3 linked regions of the Homo sapiens genome follow. The protein of the gene in region 2 purifies or fractionates together with the protein of the main gene of each other region. This does not show direct contact. Each region holds a gene or a part of one and is shown on either strand. Other genes may lie near its edges.

What was found.
Region 1: the proteins of CEP104 (region 2) and WASHC3 purify together in Homo sapiens (co-immunoprecipitation; one large-scale study listed by IntAct). This does not show direct contact.
Region 3: the proteins of CEP104 (region 2) and TOGARAM1 purify together in Homo sapiens (co-immunoprecipitation; one large-scale study listed by IntAct). This does not show direct contact.

What each region holds. Positions count from the first base shown.
Region 1 is NC_000012.12:102,055,492-102,058,991, forward strand, and holds part of WASHC3 (WASH complex subunit 3), read right to left. Parts: intron 1-3,500. UniProt on the Homo sapiens protein: Acts as a component of the WASH core complex that functions as a nucleation-promoting factor (NPF) at the surface of endosomes, where it recruits and activates the Arp2/3 complex to induce actin polymerization, playing a key role in the fission of tubules that serve as transport intermediates during endosome sorting.
Region 2 is NC_000001.11:3,815,712-3,819,211, forward strand, and holds part of CEP104 (centrosomal protein of 104 kDa), read right to left. Parts: intron 660-3,500; coding exon 569-659; intron 1-568. UniProt on the Homo sapiens protein: Required for ciliogenesis and for structural integrity at the ciliary tip.
Region 3 is NC_000014.9:44,968,690-44,972,189, reverse strand, and holds part of TOGARAM1 (TOG array regulator of axonemal microtubules protein 1), read right to left. Parts: intron 1-3,500. UniProt on the Homo sapiens protein: Involved in ciliogenesis. It is required for appropriate acetylation and polyglutamylation of ciliary microtubules, and regulation of cilium length.

The DNA of each region.
Region 1 (3,500 bases), on a different chromosome or scaffold from region 2:
TGCACCACCACGCCCAGTTAATTTTTGTATTTTTAGTAGAGACAGCATTCCACCATGTTGGCCAGGCTGGTCTCGAACTCTTAGCCTCAGGTGATCTGCCCACCTGGGCCCAAAGTGCTGGGATTACAGGTGTGGGCCACCGTGCCCCACCCATCAAAGCTTTTCAAGTAGATAAGAAGTATCTGAATATGGGACCACTGATATATTCAGAACAGAAGTTTTTGCTTTCTTTGTTTCTTTCATGGTGGTAGCTGGGGTGAATTTTTAGATGGTCCCAATTTTCTACAGGAATGTTTAGATGAGAATTTTTTGTTTCTGTCCTGTGGTTGAGTTGGTGCCACAGAGAATTTCCATAAAATTCAATTCCATTATTTAAAATAGTTTTTTTTAACTAGTTTTTCTATCAACCAGCCCCAGTCTGAAACTTGACACAGTGTTAACACAAAAGAGCAAGTACTTAATCTTCGTTCACATACTCTACCTACAAAGACATGACCTACAGTAGTTCTTCAAGCAGGTCAGTTTTAGGAGACGTTAATTCTATCTAACTAGACTAGCTATTTCACAACTATGTAAGACAACTTTATAAACTTTGCTTTAACTTACAAAGGTCATTTAATAATCCCATTGTTTTGACGATTCTAAAGATTGTAAGTTTATTTTTACAGTCTACTCTTAAATATTACTGTTGAGGCATATATATGGCAATGGTGGACTTAATTCTGCCTAAGATATCTGAGCATCTGTAGTAAAATATGAAGCTACCTTCATTTGGTTGATATGCTAAAGACATTTTTAAAAGTATCTCATTTTTTAAAAACTTGGTTTGTGTGTTTTGTATGCTCAGGAATTTTTCCACAGTACTGGAGACCATTGCAGTGATTAAATTTGGCCCTTTTGACAGAAAACAGAACAATGCATTCCTAGGGATAAAAAAGGGGTGACTGCAAAGGAGCATGAGGGAATTTTTGGAGTGATTCTATATCTTGTTCTACAACTATTCTACATCTTGATTATGGTATGATTATGCATTTGTCCAATCTCATACTTAATGGTAAATTTTACTGCATATAAGTTCATACTCCAATAAACATGACTTTACAATTAAAACAAAAGAAATATGAAGGCTCATAAGAGATTGCTATGACCAATTATATGCCAACAGATTGGATAACCTAGAATGGATAAGTTCCTAGACACATACAACCTATCAAGACTAAATCATAAAGAAATAGGTAATCTGAACAGACCAATAATAAGTAGAGAGATCAAATCAGTAGTTAAGTCTCCCACTAAACAAAACCCCCAGGACTTGATGCCTTCACTACTGAATTCTACCAAACATTTAAAGAAGAACTAATACAAATCCTTCTCAAACTCTTCCAAAATACTGAAGAGGAGGGGAAACTTTCGAACTCAATTTAGGAGGCCAGCATTATCCTGATTCCAAAGCCAGACAAATCCACTACAAGAAAAGAAAATCAAAGGTCAATATCCCCAGTGAACATAGAAGCAAAAATCCTCTACAAAATACTGGCAAGCTGAATACAACAGCGCATTAAAAAGGTCATTCACCAGGATCAAGTCAGATTTATCCCTGGGATACAAGGATGGTTCAACATATGCAAATCAGTAAAGGTGATACATCACATTAACAGAATGAAAGACAAAAACCGTATGATCATCTCAATAGATGGAACAAAGGCATTTGACAAAATTCAACATCCTTTGATGATAAAAACTCTCAACAAATTAGGTATAGAAAGAATCTAGCTCAACACAATGAAGGCCATTTATGACAAGCCCACAGCTAGCATCATACGCAATGGTGAAAACTGAAAGTTTTTCCTCTAAGATGAGGGACAAGACAAGGATATTCACTCTTACCCCTTCTATTCAACATAGTACTAGAAGTCCTAGCTATAGTAATTAGACAAGAGGGAAAAATAAAAGGCATTGAAATTGGAAAAAAGGAAATGAAATTGTTTCTGTTCGCAGATGGCATGCTCTTATATATTGAAAATCTTATAAAAAATTCCACCAAAAAATTGTTAGAACTAACAAACTACTTTGGTAAAGCTGCAGGATATAAAATCAACATACAAAAATCAGTAGCATTTCTATACACTAAAAGTAAACTATCTGAAAAAAAAGAAAAAAAATCTCATTTACAATAGCTACAAAAAAAATACATAGGGGTAAATTTAACCAGTGAGGTGAAAGATCTGTACACTGAAAACTATAACACATTGATGAAAAAAATTGAAGAAGACACAAATAAATGGAAAGATAACGTGTGTTCATGGATTGGAAACATGAATGTTGTTACAAGGTTGACACCACTCAAAGCAATCTACAGACTCAATGCAATCCCTATCAATTTTCCAATAATATTTTCACAGTAATAGAAAAAAAAATCCTAAAATTCATACTGAACCACAAAAGACCCTGAACAGGCAATGCAATATTAAGCCAAAAAAACAAAGCCAGAGAGATCACACTCTCTGATTTGAAAATCTACCACAAAGCTACAGTAATCAAAACAGCCATAGACCAAGGAAACAGAATAAAGAGCCCAGAAATAAATCCATGCATTTAAAGTCAATTGATTTTTGAGAAAGATGTTAAGAACACAGAAAAGACAGTTACAGAAACATACTTTTCACAGATGTTAAGAATAACAGTCTCAATAAATCATTTTGGGACAACTGGATATCCACATGCAGAATGAAATTAGACCCTCATCCTTTACCATATAAAAAAATTTAACACGAAAAGGATTCAAGATTTAAATGTAAGACCTGAAACTGTAAAACTACTAGAAGAAAACATAAGGGGAAAGTTGCACGACATTGGTCTGGGCAATGACTTTTTTTGGATATAAACCCCAAAGCACTGGTAACAAAACCAAAAATAAATAAATGGGATTACATCACACTAAGAAGTTTGTAGAATCTGGATTTTAAATTATTTTTTAAAAATTATTTTAAAAGACTACGAAGCTTTTGCACAGCCAACGAAACCATCAATAGAGTGAAGAGAACCTATGGAATGGGAGACTATATTTGGAAACCATATATGTGATGAAGGGAACCTCTGTACACTGTTGGTGGGAATGTAAATTAGTACAGCTATTATAGAAAATAGTACAGAGGTTCCACAAAAAATTAAAAATAGAACTACTATATGATCCAGCAATCCCACTTCTGGGTATATATCCAAAGGATGTAAAATTAGTACATTCAAGAGACATCTGTACTTGAAAGTTCACTGCAACATTATTCACAATAGCCAAGATACGGAATCAAAAGTGTCCATCAATGGATGAATGGATTAAAAAAAGTGGTATATATACACAATGGAATACTATTTAGCCTTAAAAAAGAATGAAATCCTGTCATTTGTGACAACATAAATGAACTGGAAGACATTGTGTTAAATGAAATAAGCCAGTCAAACAGAGACAGATACTGAATGATCTCACTTATATATGGAGGATA
Region 2 (3,500 bases):
AGAGTCTCACTCTGTCACCCAGGCTGGAGGGCAGTGGCGCAATATTGGCTCACCACAACCTCCACCTCCCGGGTTCAAGCAATTCTCCTGCTTCAGCCTCCTGAGTAGCTGGACTATAGGTGCCGGCCACTGTGCCCGGCCAATTTTTTATAGGGTTTCACCATGTTGGCCAGGCTCATCTCGAACTCCTGACCTCAAGTGATCTGCCTGCCTTAGCCCCCAAAGTGCTGGGATTATAGGCGTGAGCCACTGTGCCTGGCCAGCTTCCTGATTCTAAACACTTGAGTCAGTGATGTAGAAAGAGCGGAGGACGGGAGTGTGAATCCTAGGCCACCCGTGGAGCCTTCGCACTGCACAGCCAGTTTGCAGGTGGAGAAGGATTTTGGTCACACGATTCTGATTATTAGCCTGCTTACTAAGGAACCAGAACATGAAGACAGGCTTGGATGCTTTATTTTGCTTTTAAAGGGATGGGGTCTTGCCATGTTGCCCTGGACGGGGATGCTTTTTTGAATAAGTCAAAATGGAGGGATGCAGACTACACCTGCTCAGCGGCGCTGTCCCTCACCTGGCTGCAGTGCCGGGGCCTTCTGCAGAATGTGTGTCTTGCGCAGGTTCATCGTGCAGCCGGCTGGGCCCATCAGGTGAGCTTTCCATGCCTGCAGCAGAGGAGGCACACAGAGTGTTAATCAGGCGAGACGGACCTGGCACGCTACCTGAGACCCAAAAGGACTCGCTGTGTAAGCTGAAAACGAGGGCGGCCGCTCCAGCAAGAGCCGCAGAAGAACGGCTCCCTCACCTGGGCACCTCCCTTCGGATATGTTATGATAGCCTCTGCAGTCTGTGCAGGGTACAACTCAGGAAGCAAGAAGTCCTGTCACCAGGCAAGCCTGCATCTCGCATCCCCACCCAGCCACACAGGGCCCTTGGTGTCAGTGACTCTGAGCACAGCAGAGCGTGCACGCAAATGCAAGGGTGAGAAGCAGAGCGCCCGCGTGATTACGTTCCAGGCCAGAAGACAGAACGCGCCAGGCACCGCGGGCTCCCCGCCAGCCTGCTGCCCACGGTTCCTCGTGGGGTTCCCACTCTCTTCATCCCTGCTCTTCCTGAGCCACGCCACATGCACTTGCCCTGCAGAATGTGGGGCTTATGCAGGCCTGACTGCCTGGGCAGCCAGCTTCTTTCCTTTACGACCAGCTGTGGGACCGTCTGCATGGGGACAGGGAGCTCATCTCGTCCTCCTGTTGGATATAAACGCGGGATCGCTGGTTCCCTGAGTCTTCTGGACATTCGAGTTGTTCCTGGTTCCTTCCCTTCTATTTAAACAACACTCACGAGGCTGGGCGCGGTGGCTCACGCCTGTAATCCCAACACTTTGGGAGGCAGAGGTGGGTGGATCACCTGAGGTCAGGATTTTGAGACCAGCCTGGCCAGCTTGGTGAAACCCCGTCTCTACTAAAAACACAAAATTAGCTGGGTGTGGTGGCGCATCTCGTGTCCCCAACAGCTAATCCCAGCTACTCAGGAGGCTGAGGCAGGAGAATTGCTTGAACGTGAGAGGCGGAGGTTGCAGTGAGCCGAGATCACATCAGTGCACTCCAGCCCGGGCAACAGGGTGAGACTCCATCTCAAAAACAAACAACGCTTCCCAGGGACACTGCTCCAGCCGCTCTCCCATTCTCTGGTGGACCAGTATCTCCACCAGACACAGCCCTGCTTCTCCCTGGTTCCTCTCTCACTCTCACCAGTGGCTGTCAGTTTCTGGCCACCTGCGGCAGCCCTCAAGATACTAGAGCGCTTGCAGCCCCAGCCCAGCCCACTCCTGTCCCGCTTTAGCTGCTCCCGGCAGGCCTGGGTTCTGGTCTCTCCAGGCCACTGGCAACCTTCGTGTCCCTAAAGCTGGGGCGCCTTCTCACCAGAATGTGGCCCACCGGCACATGGGGTGCAGTTGCTTCCCCCTCCCCCGTGGAGGGACATGACCTGCTCTAAGGCTCCAATTCCTCCCTCCCCAGCACAGAGGTGGCAGGTCCCTCTCCATCCCTTGAATCTGGGTGACTGTGGCTTGCTTTGGCCAATGGGACAGTGGCAGACACGTGGCAGGGCAGGCTGAAATGAACTCATGCGCCTGGGCTTGTCTTGCTGTTGCCCTCTGCTGCTGTCGCGAGAACGCCGTGCCCAGGCTGGCGTGCTGGGCTCAGACACAGAAAGCAAAGCTGAGGTGCCGCAGCTGCCTCCAAGACCATTCTCAATCAGTCTCCGGCTGCGGACCCCAGGCACACGCGTGTGTGAGCCCAGTCAGGGCCAGCAGAGCCGCCTGGCCGCCCTATGGCCAAGTGCAGATGCAAGAGCCAGGCGGCTGCGATCAGCTGAACCCAGCCAGGCCAGCAGGGCATCCTCTCTGATGGGCTGTGCTCTGGGGCCTCCAGGACGCCACCCTCGTCAGGCTTCCTCCCCAGTGCATTTCTTCCCCAGCGCCTGGTTTGCCTTCTTCCTCCCACTCTGCCTGGGGCTTCTCCTCTGTCTACACTTGCTCTTTAGAAGAGTGCTCCCAGTATCATGACCTTAAACCCACTTCTTATACACGCTTACAAACCCCACATTTCCACCTGCAGCCACCTGTCTACCGGCCTGCGCGTCTGACAGGGATTTTAACTCCACAGCTCCAGGCTAAGCTCCTGAGCGCCCTGGATTCCTGACCGCAGTTACTTCCTTGCCATGTTGTGAGGACTCCACCGGCCAAGTCCTGGGTCTGCCTGCAGTGTGTGTCCAGAATCTGACCACTTCTCGCCACTTAGCTCTCTGCTACTACCCGACCTCTCTGTCCCACAGGCTGCTCTCAACAGAGCAGCAAAACTGGCTGGCATAGGGCCCGCCAGGCCATGCCCACTCTTCCGCTCAAACCCTGCAGGGACATTGCCTTCCACTCACTTTGAAGAATAATGGTCAATGATTTTTCATCCCCAGCATTGTCTTTCAGTCTATTTATGTTCTTTGATGAAGAGGAGGTTCTCACCTTTTACAATTTAATAGTTTTATTATAAAATGAGTGTACAGTTCAGTAGTGTTAAGCATGTTCACGATGCTTAACTCCAGAACTCTTTTCATTTTACAAAACCCAAACTCTGCCCCAAGGTTCTTCATTTTAATCTAATTGAATTGATCTGCCTCTTCCATCAAGGCTTAAGCTTTCTGTGTCCTGTTTGAGAAATCCCTTCCTATTCTGAAGGCTATTCTCTTATCTCTAGCATCTCCTGAGAGATTCATAATTGGGCCTTTCACATTTGAATCTCAGATCCACTCGGAGCTTTCTTCTGAGCAGTGTGGAGGGTGTCAAACTTCACTGTTTATCCCCCTTCACATTCAGAAAAATTCCAGATGTTAGAATTAGCACAAAAGGACTTTAAAGCAGATACCTAGTATGTTCAAGGACTTGAACGTGCAATGAAGTGCTACTGATCTATTAGAACCCGGGCGAACCTTGAAAACACGTTAAGTCAAAG
Region 3 (3,500 bases), on a different chromosome or scaffold from region 2:
GTTTGTATCCTGTCCCAAATCTCATTTCAAATTGTAATCCTCAATGTTGAAAGAGGGGTTGCTGGGGGATGACTGGATCATGGGGTTGGATATCCCCTTTCCTGTTCTCATAATAGTGAGTTATCAAGAGATCTGGTTGTTTAAAAGTGTGTAGCATCTCCTCCTGCCCTCTCTTCCTCCTTCTCCGGCCATGTAAGACGTGACTCCTTCCTCTTCACTTTCTGCCATAATTGTAAATTTCCGAGGTCTACCCAGCCATGAGGAACTATGAGTCAATGAAGTCTCTTTTCTTTATAAATTACCTTGTCTCAGTTCTTTACAGCAATGTGAGAACAGAATACAGATGGAAAACCCCAACATACTTGTAGACTAAATACACTTCTAAGTTACATACAAGTCAAAGAAATCTCAAGTGAAATTTTTAAATATTTTGAAATAAATGAAAATACAATGTATCAAGATTTGCGGTATGCAGTGAAAGCGGTGCCTAGAGGAAATTTATGGCACTGAAGGCATATATTAGAAAAGAAGAAAGATCTAAAATCGATCATCTAAGTGCACATCCTAGGAAACTAACAAAGGAAGAGCAAATTAAATCCAAAGTGAGCAGGAGAAAAATAAAAAATAAAAAATTTGCATAGAAATCAGTGAAACTGAAAAAAGGAAATCAACAGAAAATCAACAAAAACAAACTCGGGTTCTTGGAAAAGATCAATAAAATTGATAAGCTTCTGGTCAGGCTAAGAAAAACAGAGAAACAAATTACTAATATCAGAAATGAAAGACAGACTATCACTACAAATCACATAAACATTAAAAGGATAATAAAGGAATACTATTAACAACTCTATGCTTATAAATTGGGTAACCTAGATAAAATGGATCAATTCCTTGAAAGACACAATGTGTAAAAACACACACAAGAAGATATGGATAATCTGACTAGGCCTGTATCTGTAAAGAAACTGAATAATTAATAACCTTCCAAAACAGAAAGCACCAGAGTCAGATGGGTTTACTGGTGGATTCCACTGAACATTTAAAGAAAAAATTATACCAATTCTCTGCAATTACCTTCAGAATATAGAAGCAGGGAGAATACTTTCTGACTCATTCTAAAAGGCCAGCACTACCCTAATACCAAAACCAGCAAAGACCTTATAAGAAAAAAAACAAAAACAAAACAAAACAAAAACCCCACAGACCAATATCACCTATGAACAAACATGTGAAAATCCTCAACAAAATATTAGTAAATTGAATCCAACAATATACAAAATGAATAACACACCACAACCAAGTGGAATTTATCCCAGGTATGCAAGGCTGGCTCAACATTTGAAAATCAATTAATATAACCCATCACATCATCAGGTTTAAGAAGAAAAATCACATAATTATATCAATAGATGCAAAAAAGCATTAGACAAAATCTAATATCCATATATGATGAAAACTCTCAGCAAACTAGGAATACAGGGGGAACTTTCTCAACTTTATAGCGAACACTACAAGAAAGCATACAGATAACATCATATTTATGAGAAACTCAAAACTTTCCCACTAAGATTAGAAACAAGGCAAGGATGTCCTCTCTCATCACTGCTTTTCAATATCATATTGGAAGTTCAAACTAATGCAATAAGACAAGAAAAGGAATAAAAAGTATACAGATTGGGAAGAAATAAAATTGTCTTTGTTCACAGATGACATGATTGTCTGCATAGAAAGTCTCAAAGAATTAACAAAAAAAATCCTCCTGCGAATAATAAATGATTATATTATAGCAAGCTTGCAGGACACAAAGTTAATGTGCAAAAGTCAAGCATTTTCCTCTATACCAGCAATGAACAAGTGGAATTTGAAATTTAAAAAAAATTACCATTTACATTAACATACAGAAGTAGGATATTTCAATCTAAATTTAGCAAAATATGTACAGTATCTATATGAGGAAAGTATAGAACTCCAATGCAAGATATCAAAGAAGAGCTAAATAAATGAAGAGATAATCCATGTTTGTGGATAGGAAGACTCAATATTGTCAAGCTGTTAGTTTTTCTCAACTTGATCTATAGATTCAATGCAATCCCAATCAAACTCTCAGCAACTTATTTTTTGGACATCAACAAACTGATTCTAAAGTTTATACAGAGAGGCAAAAAACCCAGAAGAGTGAACTCAACATGGAAGGAAAACAACAAAGTCAGAAGACTGACACTACGGAACTTCAAGATTTACTATAAAGCTACAGTAATCAAGACAATGTGTTATGGGCAAAAATAGGCACACTAATGGAGCAGAGTAAAGAGCCCAGAAAAAGACCCACATGAATACAGTCAGCTGATCTTTGACAAAGAAGTAAAGGCAATGGAGTAAAGACAGTGTTGTCAACAAATGGTGCTGCAACAACTGAACATGCACATGTAAAAAAAAATGAATCTAGAAACAGACCTGACACCCTTCATAAAAATTAACTCCAAATGGATCATAGACTTAAATGTAAATTGTAAAACTATAAAATGCCTAGAAGATAACATAGGAGAAAACCTAGATGACCTTGGGTATGGTGATGACTTTTTAGATATGATACCAAAGGCATGATCCATGCAAGAAAAAACTGATTAACTGGACTTTATTAAAACTTTAAAACTTCTGCTCTGAGAAAGTTAATGTCAAGAGAATGAGAAGACAAGACACAAAGTGGGAGAAAATATTTTCAAAAGATACATCTGATAGGCCAGGCGTGGTAGCTTGCACCTGTAATCCCAGCACTTTAGGAGGCCAAGGTGGGCAATCGCTTGAGTCCGGGAGTTCAAGACCAGCCTGGCCAACATGGTGAAATCCCGTCTCTACTAAAAATACAAAAAATTAGCCGGGCATGATGGTGTGGGCCTGTAGTCTCAGCTACTTGGGAGCCTGAGGCAGGAGAATTACTTGATCCCGGGAGGCAGAGGTTGCAGTGAGCCGAGATCGCACTGCACTCCAGCCTGGGCTGTCTCACAAAAAAAAAAAAAGAAAAGAAAGAAAAGAAAGAAAGAAAGGAAGGAAGGAAGGAAGGAAGGAAGGAAGGAAGGAAAGAAAGAAAGAAATGAGGTATCAAACCATGAAAAGACATAAAGGAAACTTAAATGCATATTACTAAGTGAAAGAAACCAATCTGAAAATGCAAGCTACTGTATAACTCCAAGTATGTGACATTCTGGAAATGACAAAACTATGGAGACAGAAAAAAAGACCACTGGTTGCTAAGGCTTGGGAATGGGGTGAGAGAGGGAAGAATGTACATGTAGAGAACAGAGAATTTAGGGCACTGAAACTATTGTTATGATACTATAATGGTGGATACAAGACATGGATACATTTGTCAAAACCCCACAGAATGTACTGAACATAAGACATGGATACATTTGCCAAAATCCCATAGAATGTACAACACAAGAGTGAATCTTAATGTAAACTATGGGCCTTGGGTGATAATTATATGTTAATATGGGTTC